Homo sapiens: one gene and its partner. The protein of the gene in region 1 purifies or fractionates together with the protein of each later gene. This does not show direct contact. Each region holds a gene or a part of one and is shown in the gene's direction. Other genes may lie near its edges. The genes, in order: BLTP3A and MAGEA4.

Region 1 (2,966 bases):
ACTAGAGGATAAATGTCAGGAGCTGGAGACGAATGGTTGCTGAGGACATACTGCACCTGCCAATGAACTATGAAGAGGGAATCAAGGTCTTAGAAAAGATATGGTTATCTTAATCATTGACATAACTTGTGGATTTTTCTCCTTGAACTCTTCCTCCCTGTTCCCTTTACTGGCGGTTGTTGCAAGATGGTATTACCGTATTTAACTGTTAACTACTTATTGTTCCTCAGGTGAAAGAACTGCCTATCCTACAAAAAGAACTTATAGAAACTAAACAAGCCTTGGCCAATGCCAACCAGGATAAAGAAAAACTTCTTCAGGAGATTAGGAAATATAACCCCTTCTTTGAGCTCTGAAACCAGTGGCTCAGCCATCTGTGCCAAGGAGAGAGGCTATCACCAGCAATAGCACCACCTAGGACAGAGGGCACTGTCCAGTGCTGAATAAGTCACTACGGATGCCAGAGGGACTGGGGAGCACTCACTTCACTTGTGTGGGTGTGCTTTCCACTAGCTGTTCTTACTTGGACTGAGGACAAGGGCAAAGCATGATTGTATCCCAGGAAACTGGGGCTTGCCCTGTGTGTGGCACAAGCATCATGTCTTGCCTGTATAAAGCCTTTTGGTCCTCTGTGTACTAGGTGGAATCTTCTCAACACTGTAGGGCCATTTCACCTCATGGTTTCATGGCAGGGACATTTGCTTCCTTCACAGGCCTGTGTGAACAAGCAAAAGTACCCACCTCCTCGGTCACCCACAGAGCCACCAAAGATTCCATGTCCCAGAGCTTCCCATAGCAGACCTGAAAAGTCCATGACCTGAGCTTTGGCCATGGTAGTGGAGTGGAACAGGAAATAGTCCAGCAGAGGAGTGTGGGGGAAGGGGGCAGGAGAGGCACAAGAATAAGGGAGACCTGGACTCTGCCTTTTTGGGAAAAGGAACCAAGCTCATAGCAATTTGGCTGATAACACAATCAGATTTTTCCAGGTTAAGCTTCCTTTCTGTTATACTTTCATCATTGTGATGCTGTGGTAGAAAGTAAATAACAGTAGTGGCTCAGTCATTTAATCTTTCCCCTCTATAATACAACTTACTTGAAATTTAAATCAAGAAAAAATTTCTGACGCTGAGCTAGGTTGGTGGCATGATATGCCAGGGGTCAGTGGGGGAGCTTGCTTCTGAGCCCCCTGTTGTCCGCCTGGAGTCCTGCTTGTCTTTCCCAGCTGTGCTGAGTGGCTCTTCTGTCTCCCTGGGGTCCCTGGCACATCTGCTTTCCCAGCTCTGTGACCTTACCAGTTCTCTCCTCAGCCCTTGGTGGTTTGGGAGCTGAATATATGTTTTAAACTTTTACATAAACAACTCAACCTGTTGCCTCTCACTTCCCTCCATCACTGTGGCTTTTAAAACTCATGTATTTTGACTCAAGTGAAAAAAACACAAAAATCCCTCATCCCAGCTAGGTTTTGCCCCCTGCCCTATAAGAGAGCTATTTCCCCCTTTCTTTCCTTTGAATTCTTCTCCAACACCATCCCTTCATTCATACTGCCCTGTGATACACTTGAAGCTGTGTTGATTGGACAGACGTTCATCAGCTAACTTACCTTTACTTGGCAAGATGGTAAAATAGTAACTTAGTGATGTTACTAAAGTCTCGACCATTCACCTTTCCATACTGAAGGAAAGGTAAAAAGGTTTCTTCTATGGGAAATTATGCTTGACTTGCATACTCTAGTTTGATGAGGATAAAAAGAAACATGTAATTGCAGTGGTGTTTACAACTAATTGATCACAACCAATCATAGATTTCTTTGTTCCTTCTCCACTCTCAACACTTCATTTGACTAGAAAAAAAAAATGTATTCACCAAGGAACAGGACCCAATTTGTTCAGACTTTTGTTAAGTTTCTTTACTAAGGCAATTTTTGAAACACCAGTTACTATGGGATGGTGGGAATTTTTCATGCTTAAGAAATAGAGACTTAGGAACAAAGAAACATCTTTCTGGAGAAGATGCTAATGGGAAGTTACCTAAGGCTTGATGCTTGGTTCAACCTTATTTAAAATTTTTATAAATGACCTGAAAGTAGGATTTTACAGTGAAATCAAATGTCACTACTTCCAGGCAGTGAAAGGTAATCTAGAAGAGGTTTAAAAAACACAAAACCGGTCGGGCACAGCGGCTCACGCCTGTAATCCCAGCACTTTGGGAGGCCGAGGCGGGGAGATCACGAGTTCAGGAGATCGAGACCATCCTGGCCAACATGGTGAAACTTTGTTTCCACTAAAAATACAAAAATTAGCTGGGTGTGGTGGTGGGTGCCTGTAGTTCCAGCCACTCGGGAGGCTGAAGCAGGAGAATCGCTTGAACCCGGGAGGCAGAGGTTGCAGTGAGCCGAGATAGCGCCATTGCACTCCAGCCTGTCAACAGAGTGAGACTCCGTCTCACAACAAACAAACAAACACAAAACCACAGAAGGGTTACTAATAAGCAGGGCTGAGAATACTCAGAAAACTGACAGGTGAGGTTCAACATAATATAAGGAAATGTATTTATGGAAGAATTATCAACTGATATGCCTGAACACTGTTAGAACTCAGGAAAGAAACAAGCATTGCTGAGGGGGAGGAGAGATCAATGTGCTGCTGTGGCCAAAAGCCTAATTGCCCTGTGGGCATCATCAGGAAGGGCTTTTGGAGATAACAGAGAACAGCACTTTATACAAAACCATGGATATGTCTTGATCGGATTATCTGTGTTTCTAGTGACCTTATTTACAAGATATATGATAAAGGGAGGAAAGGTCCAGAGAACAGCCAAAATTATCAGGGGATGGAGGTATATCCATATGAGGACACATTTTTAAAATATAGACTCTATCCTGCAAAGATGAAAGCAGAGGGGAGTTAGATCAAATATCCAATCAAGAGCAAGGACCCGGTCCTGTACTACTAGCTCTAGGGCTCTAT
Region 2 (4,020 bases), on another chromosome or scaffold:
CCACTCCTGCTACCAGCCGTGGGCCACCCGTGGGCTGACTTCTGAGTCTGGGGCGCCCTCCACCCCACTGCGTCTGAAGTCACATGGGACTCTGGAGTCCGAGCTTGGGGTGGTTAGTGTAAGACTAGTGAGGGCAGGCTCTACGAGGCATCAACCTCAGGACCCTAAGAGAGGGCTAAGCGTACCCCACCCCCATTCCCATCCCCCACCCCCTCCCCTTTCCCATTACTATTTGCACTCCCAAACCCATCCGCGCCCCCATCCCCCACCAGGCTCCTATCCTCCTCAACCCCGCACCTCTCTCACACCACCATCTCCCACCCCAAAACCCGGGCCCCTCCACCAACCTCACCTCTCCCACCCCCATCCACACTGAATCAGGTTCTGCTTCCGCTTTCAACCCACCCCCAAAACGCGCCCCCTCCACCGACCTCACTCCTCCCACCCCCATCCACGCTGAATCGGGTTCTGCTTCCGCTTTCAACCCAAGAAAGCCGCAGGTGCCGGAATGTGATGCCACTGACTTGCGCATTGGGGGTTAGAGAAAAGCGAGCTGCTCTGTCTGACCAGCAGCTTGGGACTGGTGGAGGGAAGCGGGCCAGGCCCTGTGAGGAGTCAAGGTGAGACGCTGAGGGAGGACTCAGGAGGCCCCCACCGCAGATAGACAATCCCAAATAATCCCGAACCACTCATGCTCCCAGCCCTGGGCCACTCGTGGGGGGACTTCTGAGTCTGGGGCGCCCACCACCCCACTGCCTCTGAAGTCGCACGGGACTCTGCAGTCAGAGCTTGGGGTGATCAGTGCAAGACTGGTGAGGGCAGGCTCTGCCAGGCATCAACCTCAGGACTGTAAGAGAGGGCCGAGGGTCCCCCACCCCCATTCCCATCCCCCTTCCCATTCCCATCCACACTCCCAACCCCATCTACACCCTATCCCCCACCAGCACCCCTATCCTCCCCAAACCCCCACTACCCTTATGTCCTCATCCCCCACCCCAACACCACTATCCCCATCCAGGTTGAATCGCATTCCGTTTCTGCTTTCAACCCAGGGAAGCTCCAGGTTCCTGGATGTGATGCCAGTGACTTGTGCATTGGGGGTTAGAGAGACGCTAGCTTCTCAGTCTGACAGGCAGCTTGGGATTGGCAGAGGGAAGCCGGTCCAGGCTCTGTGAGGTGGCATAGTGAGAAGCTGAGGGAGAAGTCGGGAGGCCCTCTCCACCCCAGATAGACGACCCCAAATAATCCGGCACCCCTCCTGCTTCCAGTCCTGGGCCACCCGTGGGCGGACTTCTGAGTCTGGGACGCCCACCACCCCACTGCCGCTGAAGCCGCAGGGGACTATGGAGTCAGAGCTTGGTGTGATCAGTGCAGGACTGGTGGGGGTAGGCTCTGCCAGGCATCAACGTCAGGACCCTAGGAGAGGGCTGAGTGTCCCCCACCCCCATTCCTATCCCCTACCCCTTTCCCATCTGCACTCCCTACCCCATCTGTACCCCCATTCCCCACCTGTGCCCCTATCCTCCCCAACCCCCCAACCAGCCTCATACCCCCCTCCCCCACCCCTACCTTCATCCCCATCAGCGCAGCATCCGGTTCCACCCCTGCTTTCAATCCAGGCAAGCCCTGGGTGGCCGGATGTGATGCCACTGACTTGTGAATTGAGGGTTAGAGAGAAGTGAGTTTCTGGGTCTGAAGGGTGGCTTGAGATCGGCAGAGGGAAGGTGGCCCAGGCTTTGTGAAGAGGCAAAGTGAGACTCTGAGGGAGGATTCAGGAAACCCCTATCCCTGATAGAGGGTCCCAGCCCTGGACTACCCCGCGGAGGCTGACTTCTCAGACTGGGCTGCTCCCCACCTCCGCCCCCTTCGCAACGCGTTTGTTTAAGCCACAGGGGACTCTGGAGTCAGAGGTTGGTGTGATCAGGGAAGGGCTGGTTAGGAGAGGGCATGGCCCAGGCCCTGCCAGGAATCAAAGTCAGAAACCTGAGAGGGAACTGAGGTCCCCCAAGATCCTAGTCTAACCCCCACTCCCACAAATCCGCTGCCATTTCGCTGCTCCATTTCCCATTCCTTGCCCTCCACCCTCACCAGGCAGAATCCAGTTCCCCTTCTGCTATCAATCCAGGGAAACCCCAGGCTTGGTGCTGGGATGTTTTTTGGGGGTCAGAGAATCAAGGGCATAGTCCTGAGGGGCCAGTTGAGATCGGCTGAGGGGAGCGGGCCCAAGCTCTGTGGCGAGGCAAGGTGAGACTCTGAGGAAGGACTGAGGAGGCCCCCACCCAAGATAGAGGAACCCAAATAATCCAGCGCAGCTCCTGCTGCCAGTCCTGGACCACCCGGGGGAAGACTTCTCAGGCTAGGCCATCCCAGCTCCCACTGCCACTAAAGCTACAGGGGACTCTAGAGTCAAGAGCTTGGTGTGCCCAAGGCAGGGCCCAGGCTCTGCCTGGCATCGGGGTCAGGACCTTGAGAGGGAACTGAGGGCGCTACACCCCCACCCCATCCGCATTCCAACATGCCCAGCCCCATCCCCAACTCCGTTTTGCAGAATCCATTTTTTCCCCTGCAGTCAACCCCGGGAAGACCTGGGAATGGTCAGGCACTCGGATCTTGACATCCACATCGAGGGCTGAAGGAGGGAGAGGGTTTGGTATCATGAGCAGAGCCTCAGGGTAGCAGAGGGAGGACCCTGGCCCTCCTGGGAGATGAGGAAGGCCTCAGGAGACCCAGCACCCCAAGGCAGGGAGCCCACCCCACCCCGTCTGAGAATGAGGTGCCTCCTCTTTTAGCCTCAGGAATCCAAGGGATGGCAACTCAGGTCAGCAGAGGGGTGGGTTCCAAGCCCTTCCAGGATCAAGGAAAGGAAGACGAGGGAGGATTCAGGGGGCCTTGCATTCCAGATCAGTGGAGACCTGGGCCCTGGGAGGTCCTGGGCAAGGTAGCCACCTGTAGCTCATACTTCCTGCATCTTCGAGGTCACAGAGAGGAGAGGGCTATGGTCTGAGGGGTGGTACTTCAGGTCCGCAGAGGGAGGAGTCCCAGGATCTACAGGACCCAAGGTGTGCCACACTTCACGAGGAATGGGGATACCTGTGGCTCAGAAAGACGGGACCCCACAGAGTCTGGCTGTCCCCTGTTCTTAGCTCAGGGGGGACCAGAGGAGGGATGGCCCTATGTGCCAATTTCACTTGTTCCACAGGCAGGAAGTTGGGGAACCTTCAGGGAGATGAGGTTTTGGAGTAAAGGGGCAATGTTTGCTCATCTCAGGGGGTTGGGGGTTGAGGAAGGGCAGGCCCTGTCAGGAGCAAACATGAGTACCCCACAGGAGGCCATCAGAACCCTCACCCCAGAACCAAAGGGGTCAGCCCTGGGCACCCCACACAGGGGTGACAGGATGTGGCTCCTTCTCATTTCTGATTCCAGATCTCAGTGAGGTGAGGACCTTGTTCTCAGAGGGTGACTCAGGTCACCACAGGGACCCCCATCTGGTCTACAGACACAGTGGTCCCAGGATCTGCCAAGAGTCCTGGTGAGGAATGTGAGGGAGGATTGAGGGTACCACAGGGCCAGAACGCAGATGATGACCCCACAGAAATCAGCCCTGCTCCTGTTGTCACCCCAGAGAGCATGGGCTTGGCTTTCTGCTGAGGTCCCTCTCTTATCCTGGGATCACTGGTGTCACGGAGTGGGAGGCCTTGGTCTGAGGGGGCTGCACCCAGGTCAGTAGAGGGAGGGTCCCAGGCTCTGCCAGGAGTTGAGGTGAGGACCAAGCAGGCTCCGCATCCAGGACACATGGGTTCCAATGAATTTCGACATCTTTTGCTGTCGTTCTTCGGAAGACCTAGGCACAGGTGGCCAGATGTGGGGTTTCTTAGGTCCTGTTCCCTCTCAGGCATGTGAGCTCTTGATCTGAGTTTCTCAGGCCAGCAAAAGAGTGGGATCCAGGCCCTGCCTGGAGAAATGTGAGGGCCCTGAGTGAACACAGTGGGGATCATCCACTCCATGAGAGTGGGGACCTCA

What was found.
Region 2: the proteins of BLTP3A (region 1) and MAGEA4 purify together in Homo sapiens (co-immunoprecipitation; one large-scale study listed by IntAct). This does not show direct contact.

Annotation. Positions count from the first base shown.
Region 1 is NC_000006.12:34,872,083-34,875,048, forward strand, and holds part of BLTP3A (bridge-like lipid transfer protein family member 3A), read left to right. Parts: intron 1-230; coding exon 231-356; 3' UTR 357-2,966. UniProt on the Homo sapiens protein: Tube-forming lipid transport protein which probably mediates the transfer of lipids between membranes at organelle contact sites. May be involved in the retrograde traffic of vesicle clusters in the endocytic pathway to the Golgi complex.
Region 2 is NC_000023.11:151,919,103-151,923,122, forward strand, and holds part of MAGEA4 (melanoma-associated antigen 4), read left to right. Parts: intron 1-490; exon of another isoform or gene 491-620; intron 621-3,423; exon of another isoform or gene 3,424-3,529; intron 3,530-4,020. UniProt on the Homo sapiens protein: Regulates cell proliferation through the inhibition of cell cycle arrest at the G1 phase. Also negatively regulates p53-mediated apoptosis.